2 separate regions of the Homo sapiens genome follow, and region 1 is linked to region 2. Evidence: fine-mapped expression QTL. A gene starts in region 2. The other region holds a variant in brackets. All regions are shown on one strand. Distances are from middle to middle.

Evidence for each region. PIP is the estimated chance that this variant, and not a neighbour inherited with it, causes the effect.
Region 1: its variant is the best candidate, but not a certain one, in a credible set for the expression of LINC02771 in tibial artery (GTEx, PIP 0.65).

Annotation. Positions count from the first base shown.
Region 1 is chr1:212,443,614-212,448,988 of GRCh38, reverse strand. It overlaps NENF (neudesin neurotrophic factor), which reads right to left. Exons shown (of 4, transcript NM_013349.5): 3 at 4,547-4,650; 4 at 2,610-3,159. The coding sequence ends at 2,983. Among named protein-coding and RNA genes, the nearest start is that of NENF, 13 kb to the right of the region's middle. The variant A/G (reference allele first, on the strand shown) is at 2,992.
Region 2 is chr1:212,469,646-212,475,020 of GRCh38, reverse strand. LINC02771 (long intergenic non-protein coding RNA 2771) reads left to right here and starts at 2,143. Exons shown (of 3, transcript NR_183725.1): 1 at 2,143-2,344. RefSeq lists enhancers at 2,438-2,938, 2,939-3,439.

The DNA.
Region 1 (5,375 bases), 26 kb after region 2:
CTCAGCTGATCCGTCCACCTCAGCCTCCCAAAGTGCTGGGATTACAGGCGTGAGCCACCACACCTGGCCAATTTTTTGTACAGACAGGGTCTCCCTCTGTTGCCCAGACTGGCCTCAAACACCTGGGCCCAAGTGATCCTCCCACCTCGGCCTCCCAAAGTGCTGAGATTACAGGCATGAGCCACGGTGCCCAGCACTTTTTTCTTTTGAACTATGACTCTCACATGATTTTCACTTCCACAGGTGGGGGTCCTCTGAGATAGTTTGTGTGTTATCTCCACAGGGTGATAGGCTGTGTTCTGGAAGGATGTTCAGGACTTGAATTTCAGTTTTCAGTCACTCTCACTGGATTCCCAAACTAGCCTAGTTTGGGACAAGAGATTACGAAACACTCCTTAGAAACACTAACTCATCTCAACTAAAATAGAGAGTGAATGAACCTGGTATGCTAAAGTGTTAATAATGACAAAATGAAAAATATAAAATAACACAAAATAATGAGGCAATCTCGATGGAATGGGCACATGTATCTGTGTGCCTCATTTTATGCAATGTAGGTATTTCAAAGAAGTTGTGTGTGAAATCAATTTCTGTGATCTGAATACTCTAAACCGGCCAAAGAAGCCTTGTTATTTAAAGAAATTCTGTAAGCAAATCTTTTTAACTGAAAAAGTAAGGAAACTCCTGTCTCAGAAATCATTTAGTATATTTTGCTTAAAGTGAAGCACACTTGTATTAAACTAAGGAAAAAAAAAATCAGTGAATCACGTTCTACCGTTTACATTATGTATAATTTCCAATGAGATAAGATAATGAAAAGTGAAAAAAAAAAAAAAAGAAAGAAAGTTTGGTCACTGTAGGAGAGTGTGCTGGGCCCATAAGATGCCCCTGTTTGAAGGAGACAGGCTCACAAACAGGCAATCACAGCAAAGCAGGTGAGTCTAGGCTAAGGGGATCACACAGGAGGGGGAAGGCTTCCTGGTACAGGTGCACCTAGGCTGAGTCTTAAAAGGAGGATATGAGCCTTCAGAGAAAAAGAAAAACATTATAAATAGACATAGGAGCAGGGGGCACATGACGCAGGGACTTCAGGCCTCCCAGGGTCTGTGCGAGACTTTTAGGCCCTGCAGACCTCAATGATGCAGAATCCTCAGGCCGGCCTGTGCCTCCTCCCCTGGGGTTGCACCCACCCTTTCTAGAGCCCACACAGGCTGCCGATTTCTTGCACACTGTCCTGGCTGGCTGGCAGCTTTTGATGTGCACTCAGGGAACTGGGCAGGGTAATCCTGGGAGGGGTGGTGAGCCTGAGACCATGAGGGAAAACTGCCTTCATGGGGGCAAAGGTGAGGAGTGGGGCAAACAGTGGTGTTGGGAAGTTCCCAGAGCCTGAATTTGGAGACCTTGATTCACTGCAGAAATCTGTGTCTAAGGAGTGGAATTCTACCCACCCTCCCACCCCACATTACATAGTGATGTAGGGAGTGGTGGGCACATAAGTAAAAGAAGTCATCTCTCGACTATTCCCAAGGACTTGGACACCATTTGTATTTATTTGTACATCCTGTTTTGGGGCAAAATGTCCGCTACAGACAACCTTGGCTGCATAAGCAACTTCTAGAATTCTAGGCCAAAAAGTCCTATCTGATAAGATCCAAGCGCGTTACTCTTGGATGGCCATCAAGCTCCCATCTTCTTCAGTGCAACCCAGAGGTTTACCATTAGACTCCCCAGCCCTGGAACACATTAAAGGTCAAACCTTGCCCTCAAAAAGGATCTGAGTTGTCCTTGCGATGACTGATAAGGCAATAAGGTGGTGTCTCAAAGTGTGTTTGGGCCTGTTTGTATCACAACTTCCTGAGCAGCTCACTACAAGCACTGTTCCAGGCCATGTTCTAGAAATACTGAATCCTAAGCGCTAGGAGGTGGGGCCCAGGAGTCAACATTTTGAACAATCACCTTAACAGATTATTCTGCTTAATGTGAAAATTCTCTCTTGGGGGCAGTTGCTATTTATTTTAATAAAATACAAGTTTTATGTCAAGGAAATTCATCTCCACTGTAAAATGTCCAGGATCCATCTAACACAGTATTTATCAGCCTCAGTATGGGTGAAATTTCGGACCGGATGATGCTTTGTCAGGTGCATTACAGAATGTTGACCAGCATCCCTGGCCTCGAGATGCCAGTAGCATCCTGCAGTCATGACAGACAAAAATTAAAAAAAAAAAAATGTTGCCAGACATCACCCAATGTCCCCAGAGGGAAAAATCTGCCCACTCTAACAAAAGGGGCTTCCTCTTAAAATCTGACCTCAGTCCAGCATAAGGAATATGCCTCCCGTTCTTGGAATGACCTCCACCAGGCTCTGCCCACACTGACCCCGGCCCTCCTCACCAATCTCCAGCTGCACGTGCACTGAAGCCAGTTCCCACCCTCACTCCAGCCGGGTTTCCTGGCTCCCTTCCCATCGCCCACCCTCCCACCTCACCACTCTCTTTTCCTGCCCATTGCCTAAATGCCCCACCATCCGGCCCCGCAGGACTATGGAAGAACAACACAGCCCACCCGCTTATGTGGGCTCCAAGGAAATGGCCTCTGGGGAAGAATTCTCCTTTTGTAAAAATGGGACCTTTATTTTTGTTTTGATTATAAAGTGAACATGGTCATGGCTGAAAATCTGTCAAGCACAGAAAAGTATAAAGTAAAGGTCGCTCAAAATTCCACTGCCCAGCCAGCTGATACTGACATCTAGGAGGTGTCCCACTTTGGCTCTTATTGATCCCTGGTGTGCAGACAGGGGTCCCCAGGTAGACAGAACCCCTGACCAAGGACAACAGGAGGCATTTGCTCTTCCAGGGTAAGCATCTGTTTTATTCAGATCTGGGTGGCTCAGGGCCTCCAGGCAGCCAGTTTTGCAGGAGATTCAGCACCTAGTGTCTTCCTGCCTCACGCTCCCAAGAACCTGCTCCTGCAGGGGGAACATCAGAACTC[A/G]TCCTTGATGTCAAAATGGGGCTGGTCTTCAGGCTTGAAGTCCAGGTTAGGGCTGCCATCCTCATTGAGAATTCTCCGGGCAGTGTAGCCGACGATGGGGTATTTGGCTTTGTACACTTTGGTGAAGACCTCATCCAGGGCCTCCAGTTCCTTGGCCGTGAGACCCGTCTTGGGGAGAAAAGCCCAAGAAAGACAGGAGATGGGGTTAAGTGGATAGTGTTTGGCACTGGCCTTTCTCCATCCCTGCCTTGCCTCCCACATCCCTAATGCAAGAGAAAAGATATCTCAACAAACCAAATAATGGACAAATGGCTTAAGAGACACTGCTGTGGGGGGGGCGTGGGGGTGGGAGGGTATAACATACGGGGAGCAATGCTTCATCACACTTTGTGGTTTGACTGATGGAAGGGATGAAAGACTCCAGAGAGCATGCTGGGGTGGGGCAGGGCATGCCCTATTGCATCTGCATCCCCTTCCTCCCCCCGATTAATCCTCCCTCTCTCTACACTGCTCCCATTATCCCTCTCTCTACACTCCTCCCATTATACATTTGGCACCTTCCCCTTTCTTAAGTTCTTCATTCATTTTTGTAATATTGTTACATTCATTTTGTTATGAGTTTGGCTCATCTCAATTTATCTCAATGTCAGTTTGATGTTGAGCACAGTTAGAGGAAATTCCAGCCTTACTGTTGGAATTATTTAGACCTTGAATAGGTTTAAAAAACAAATTTTTTTTTTTTTGAGATGGAGTCTCACTCTGTTGCCCAGGCTGGAGCACAGTGGCATGATCTCAACTCACTGTAACCTCCGCCCCCTGGATTCGAGCGATTCTCCTGCCTCAACCTCCCAAGTAGCTGGGATTACAGGTGTGCACCACCACACTCAGCTAATTTTTGTATTTTTAGTAGAGACGGGGTTTCTCCATGCTGGCCTGGCTAGTCTCAAACTCCTGACCTCAGGTGATCCACCTGCCTTTGCCTTCCAAAGTGCTGGGATTACAGGCATGATCCACCACTCCTGGCCTAAAAAATGTTTTAATGCTATCTTCTCCTTCACAGAAATATAAGCATAGAGGGAGACCTTTCTTCCCAACCCAGTTCATCCACAAAGCTACCAAGCATGGCCTGGGGAATGGGTCTCAGAGACTAATAGCAAGGCTGTAAGGGGCTGAGGGGATGGGGTGGCAGGTACAGACCATAAGGAGCATTAGGTTGCCAAAGCAGGTTGGGGCCAAATTGTGATGATCACTGAGTTGGATCACAAGTTCATAAGAGTTTGGACTTGACTCTAGGCAACAGACAGCCATGGAAGGTTTCTGAGTCGAGATGACATGGTAGGATAATCTATTTCAAGAAAATGCCTGGCCACCATACCAAGTGGACCGAAGGGTAAATAAGCTAATTAGGAAGGCTTGCTCTTGCCCAGATACACACACACACACACACACACACACACACACACACACACACACACACACGAAAAGAAAAAGAAAAAGAGAAAAAGGCATGGACAAGGAGGTAGAGGATTTTACAAAGGCTTATAATCTGGCTCACAGTGTCATGGGTGAGGTCTGCAGGATCCAAGGACATCTTGGCTACCCCTCTAGTGGAGTCCTTCCCCGTCAAGGCATTGTAGGGGGCTCCTCGTCCATAAAACTCTGTAGTGGGAAGGAAGGAAGAGACGTAAGCGTGGGTTTACATGCAGAGTAACCAGGAGCTTGCACGTGGGGGCGCTCCCAAGGCCCGCACCCAATCCTAAAAAAGACTCCACGCTCACGGAGAGGCCAAACAATGGCGATACAAAGTCCAGTAAGCCACCCCAGCCATCAGGTTGGATTCCACTTACTCTAAATGTGAAGTAAGTCACACATGCAGGCTGAGCAGGGATTTTCAGAAAATATAAAATGAGAATAGTACCCCTACAACCTCTTTTGTTGTTGTTTTTTTTTGACAGGGTCTCACTCTTGCCCAGGCTGGAGTGCAGTGGCACAATCTTGGCTCACTGCAATCTCCACCTCCCGGGTTCAAGCAATTCTCCCACCTCAGCCTCCAGAGTAGCTGGGACTACAGGCATGTGCCACCACCATGCCCAGCTAATTTTTGTATTTTTTTTTTTGAAGAGATGGGGTTTCACCATGTTGCCCAGGCTAGTCTTGAACTCCTGAGCTCACATGATCTGCCCACCTTGGCCTCCTAAAGCGCTGGGATTACAAGCATAAGCCACTGTGCCTAGCCCCCTTCTCGTTCTGTTTTTTCACCTAAGTGTTAATACTGAGAAAATAGTCTCTTAAAAATATTAGAGATGCAGGCTGGGTGCGGTGACTCACGCCTGTAATCCCAGCACTCTGAGAAGCCAAGATGGGCAGATCATTTGAGGTCAGGA
Region 2 (5,375 bases):
ACAGCAATGCTCAGGATGCTCAGAACAGCTTTGGGGAGTGTTTTGCCTCTAATGTCCTCATCTTGTTCTCTAGCCTCATTCAACCTGTTTCCTGTTCCCTGGAAGTCATTTTATGGCTAAATAAATCCCAACGAAATGTTAACTCTGAAGACAGGCACCTCCTGCCTTCTCCCCTGGACCCCCTTTCTGCTTGGAGTCCTGGTGTTTGCCATAGTGTCTGTATTTTCAGAAGGTTAATGGGTGCAGGATCCCACATTAGGACTTACAGGGAGGGCTCAGCCTCTGACCTCAGAAAATTCAGGTCCCAGGGGGAGTCAAGACAGATGAACTATTCAGTCTGTTCGTTATTCTAGCTATCAGCATCTTCAGCTAACCTGGTGTTTTTTAATGTAGTTTGAGAGTCTCTAAATTGATTTCATGACCCACTAACTAGCATCTCAAATCACATTTTATTTAAATGAAATTGAATGAAATACAAAACATGAAGTGTATTGCATATAGTACAATTAATAATTGTTTCAAGAAAATTTCTGTTTTAGTTGTGTGTATCTGAGTGTATATGTGTGTGTGTGTGTGTGTACACACTTGATTACAATATAAAATACATTTCTTACTGTGAGTCCAGTCAAAAAGTTAAAGCACCACATATCTTAATATTTTCTCCCTCTGGCTTCACAATAATTGTTTGCAGCAGTTTTACAACCTATGGTTTGTTCAAGGAAATACGAAAAAAGAGTTTTGATCCGCGGACCTGTGAAGGAGCAGAGGAGCCAGGCTGAGCCAGCACATGAGGGAAGCCCTTGGATCCAGACACTGCAGCAGAGCTAGGGCTGGCCAAAGGGCTGCATGGACAATAACTGGCTCACACTGAGGGCCCCGCTCCTCACCTGCCTATCTTAAGCCACCTGTTCTCTCTCTCTCTCTCTCTCTCTCTCTTTTTCTTTAAATACAGATGGCGTCTCGCTATGTTGCCCAGGTTGGTCTCAAAACTCCTGACCTCAAGCGATCCTCTCACCTCAGCCAACCAAAGTGCTGGGATTACAGGCATGAGTCACTGCACCTGGCCCAGTCACCTGTTCATGAAAACCCCAAGGCTCGCTGCTACCCAACCCGAGGTCAAGACTGGCCAGAAGGTGTGCAGATACCCTCTCGCCTATTCAGCTGTTGCCTACTGAAGCCTGATCTGCAGCTCCCACTGCACCGCTCAGGCAGCCAAATGGGGAGGAAAAACCACAGAGTGGTCGTAAGCTGTTCTTCCGCAGGCTCTTAAGCATTGGTCTCTAACCAACAAGGCCTGGCATATGTATTGAATTTATTTATTTATCATTATTATTGTTATTTTAGAGCTGGAGGTCTTGCTTTGTTGCCTAGGCTGGTCTTGAACCTTCTCACCCATTGCTTGGACCAGCTGGCAGCCCACGGGTATACCCCAAGCAATCCTCCTGCCTCGGCCTGCCAAAGTGCTGGGATTACAAGCATGAGCCACCATGCCTGGCCTTGAATGTACTGAACTTATTCTTCCGTGTATCCCAGGCACAGACCCACTTTCTGTGAATGGGAGAGTGGTCTGGCCATGGCTCACTGGCCTGTGGGTTAGCAGGACTGATTTGGCTGCTTCTCAGAGGCCCCTCCAACCAGAGCTGCGTCTTCATTCAGGGAAGATGACCTTCTCCAAAAGGGCCCCTCTCCAGACCCTACAATCAAAGGTATGCCTCTGTGTGGAAACCACATAAATGCACTTATCTTTCCTCTACAAAACTGAAACTCCTGACACCCCCAACTCCCCACCATCTGGGCAGGGTGGTTTTGTTTTTTTCCAAGAAGCAAATAATTCTAGAAGTCAGAGAGAGTGGGGCCCGGAATCAGGCAGCCTGGACTTTCATCTCAGATCTGCTTATGAGAGAATGCCTGTGGGCAGGTTGTTTAGCCTCCCCAAGGGTCAGCGGCCTCCCCTGTAAAGCAGAAGATAATAATAGCTCCTATTTCAGCAGGTTACCATGAGAATAAAATAAGGTAATACAGGAAGGCAGGTAATCCAATACTCAGCATATAGTAAATGCTCACTAAATACTACCTACCATCATCATAATGACTGTGGTTATTATGACAGTCTCTAGGCAGCCCCAGAGTGGCCATAGGTCTGAGAGCCCCACAGGGCCCCTCCTGGTTGATTCCCCAAATCCACTTCTCCATCACCCTCACTGACCTTCTCCCACTGTGAGGCCTCCTGCCTTCCACAGGACCTGCCTGCTGTCTCACCTCTTCATAGCTCACCTCTCTTCTCTACCCCAAGGCTGGCTTTGAGGGACCCTGGCTCCACAGTCCTTGCCACAGTATGAACAAGGTAATGTGGGGTCTGGCACGAAAGGACCTGGGTTAGAGTCCTTGCTCGGCTGCTGCCTGTAGGGAGGCATGGCTGTGTCCTTCAAGTAAATCAGGATGGACCAGAGACGGGTACCAAGTCTGAGACCCCACCAACAAGGATGGTCTCACCCATCAGGCAGGGCCCAGGGCCTAAGGTTTGTGACCGTGGCTCCTTGCTGCAGGTGGAAGTGGCAGCTAATGTCCAGTAGGCAGAAGGATGCATCCTGGGGCCAGGGTGTGGAAACGGGAGCAGGCAGGCAGCCTCTGTCCATCTCCTGGACAGGGTTCAAGGGACACACAATGGGAGCAGGACCTCAGATTGAGGGAACTGAGGCTGGAGCCCAGACACACAACCTGGGCGGGGAGAGTTTCTGCGATGTCTTGTTTTTGTGGAAAAGTCTTGGACGCACACACTGGTAGCTGAAGGTTCACCATCTGCGGAATCTACATGGGGACAGTCTATGAGCACGGGTGATGATGAGCCCAATGAGGGGATTCGCTGCAGCGACCCACCTGGGCCCTGAGCCCTGGATCAGCCTGGAGGGGCTGAACCCCTCCCTGCTAAGGCCGCTGTGTGGGGAGGGGCTGTGCTGGTCCTGGGGACTTCCTGCCTGAAGACGGGTGTGGGCCAGTGGGAACAGAGCCTGCAGCTGGCTCCGCACTCCCAGAGCCAGGAGGCAGGCATGGGAAATAGGCTCACAGAATACTCATTGTATACTAAGAGACGTTTGTCCCCTGAGCCCCCTTTTACTCTTCTAGAAGGCGGGAATGGCGATGATTTCCAATATATAAATTCATAGGTGTGTTACTGAAATGAATACAAGGAGTGGTTTGCAAACAGCTGAACTAACGTTCTTATAGTGTCATTAATTATCCTTGGGGTAAGTACGCAAACCCTTTGTTTTACAAGAATCACTACAATCTAAAGATAACACAACAAGTTGGGAAAGTTACAAAGGTTTCTGAAATCAGAAAAGGCTTCTGAGCAAGAACGGCTTTGGTTATTACTCCAGCCATGGTGGGGATGAGTGCCTGCATGGGGGAGGAGGGGGCACAGTTATTTTGGCTCCAAACTGGCAACAAAACAGGGTTTTGAGTTCTTCTGAACCAGGTGAGTGCCGGCCCCAGGGCTTGGCCAGTGTTCAGGGATGGGGTCTCAGTGGTCAGTCAGAACCACAGCCTGAGACCTCCCTGCCCTAAGCCAATCCTAGGGTGTCTGGGGAAGGCCTTCGGCCAACATGGACAAGTCAATGGTGGAGCAGAGGAGCTGGGCTCAACACCACCCTTGGGGTTAAATGAGCTGAGGCAGGGAAAAGGGCATCAAGCCAGCACTTCTCATACATTGAAGAGATTTTTGTGATGTTGCAGTTATTTTCATATCTCCCCATGCCTTCCACCTTCTCAACAAGTCTGCCCAATTATTATCTCATTTTTTTATTATTTTATTTTATTTTATTTGCAACAGTTTCACTCTGTCGCCCAGGCTGGAATGCAGTGGCACCATCTTGGCTCACTGCAACCTCCACCTCCCGGGTTCAAGCAATTCTCACACCTCCGCCTCCCAAGTAGCTGGGATTACAGGCGTCCACCACCATGGCTGGCTAATTTTTGTATTTTTAGTAGAGACGGGGTTTTGCCATGTTGGCCAGGCTGGTCTCAAACTCCTGACCTCAGGTGATTCGCCCGCCTTGGCCTCCCAAAGTGCTGGGATTACAGGTGTGAGCCACCGTGCCCAGCCCTATTATCTCATTTTTAACTGAAGAGACAAATAAGACTCAGACAGAGTGATTTGTCTAAGGGCACACAGCAAGCTAATGGCCAAGTTGGGATGAGAACCTCTCCCTGTGGTGTTTGGAAGGACAGAGTCCCAGGACCGGGGCAGGAACAGACCTGGGCTGCAGCTAGGAGCTCAATGGAGTTCAATGGACCGGAGCCTGGCAGGTCCACGCCCAAAGGCAAATGGAAAATGTCTCACTGGATTAATACAGCATCTGGTGGTGGCAGGTGGGAGATATGTCCTTTCTTTTTTATAGTTTTCTGTATCGATCTGGAATTTTGTATAAGCAAGCTTTCCATTTACAATTAGACAAAATAATCAGATTATACTCCAGGGGTCAAGGGGGTAGAGATCCCACCCACACGTGGCCAAGGTAGGGCCCTTCACCCACCAGCAGCTGCCTTTGTGGGCGGGTCTCTGGTCTCACCACACCAGAGCCCCTCGGAACGCTCTTTTCCTGAGATGACTTCCATTCTCCAGTTCTCTCAGCTCAGCCTCCCTCTTGGCAGTCACGGCTGCCCTCCCTCATCCCTCGAGGGTTTTCCAGCAATCCTTTGCACATAGCTCCTTGGCAGAAGATAGGGAGATCACATGGCTGCGTGACGGTGTTTTCTGACTCACGGAATGGAAAGAAACACTACACACAAAAGCAGCACACAGGGCCTCTGTTGCGAGTTGGGCTAACTACTCGGTGTGGGGCGTGATTCATCCGGGACTGCCTGGCGAGTGTACATGCTCGCAGGGCAAGGGCAGCGCAGCACTGAGCTACTCAGGCCCAGGCCCCTCCCAGGCAGAGCAATGAGTCCAGCAGCTCTGCCCGCAAGGGTCTGGGGCTGCCATGGGCTAACCAAGAGGTGTCTGAGGAGATTGCAGACAGTGGCTGGAGACGGAAGGTGAAAAAGTTAGAAGATCCAGGTTGGAAAAATTTGAGGAAGAAAGTAGTCAGACAGGTGTGGGCAGAATAGGGTCAAACTCTCCTGCAGACCAGGACACAGGCTCTGACTTCTCCACACCACACCCCAGGCCCTCCAGGTACAGCAGACACATGCTCACCATCATCAGAAAGGTTCTAATAAAATATTGATGTATTTATTATTATTTTGTTTATTTATTTATTGAGATGGAGTCTCACTCTGTCACCAGGCTGGAATGCAGTGGCGTGATTTTGGCTCACTGCAACCTCTGCCTCCCTGGTTCAAGCGATTCCCCTGCCTCAGCCTCCTGAGTAGCTGGG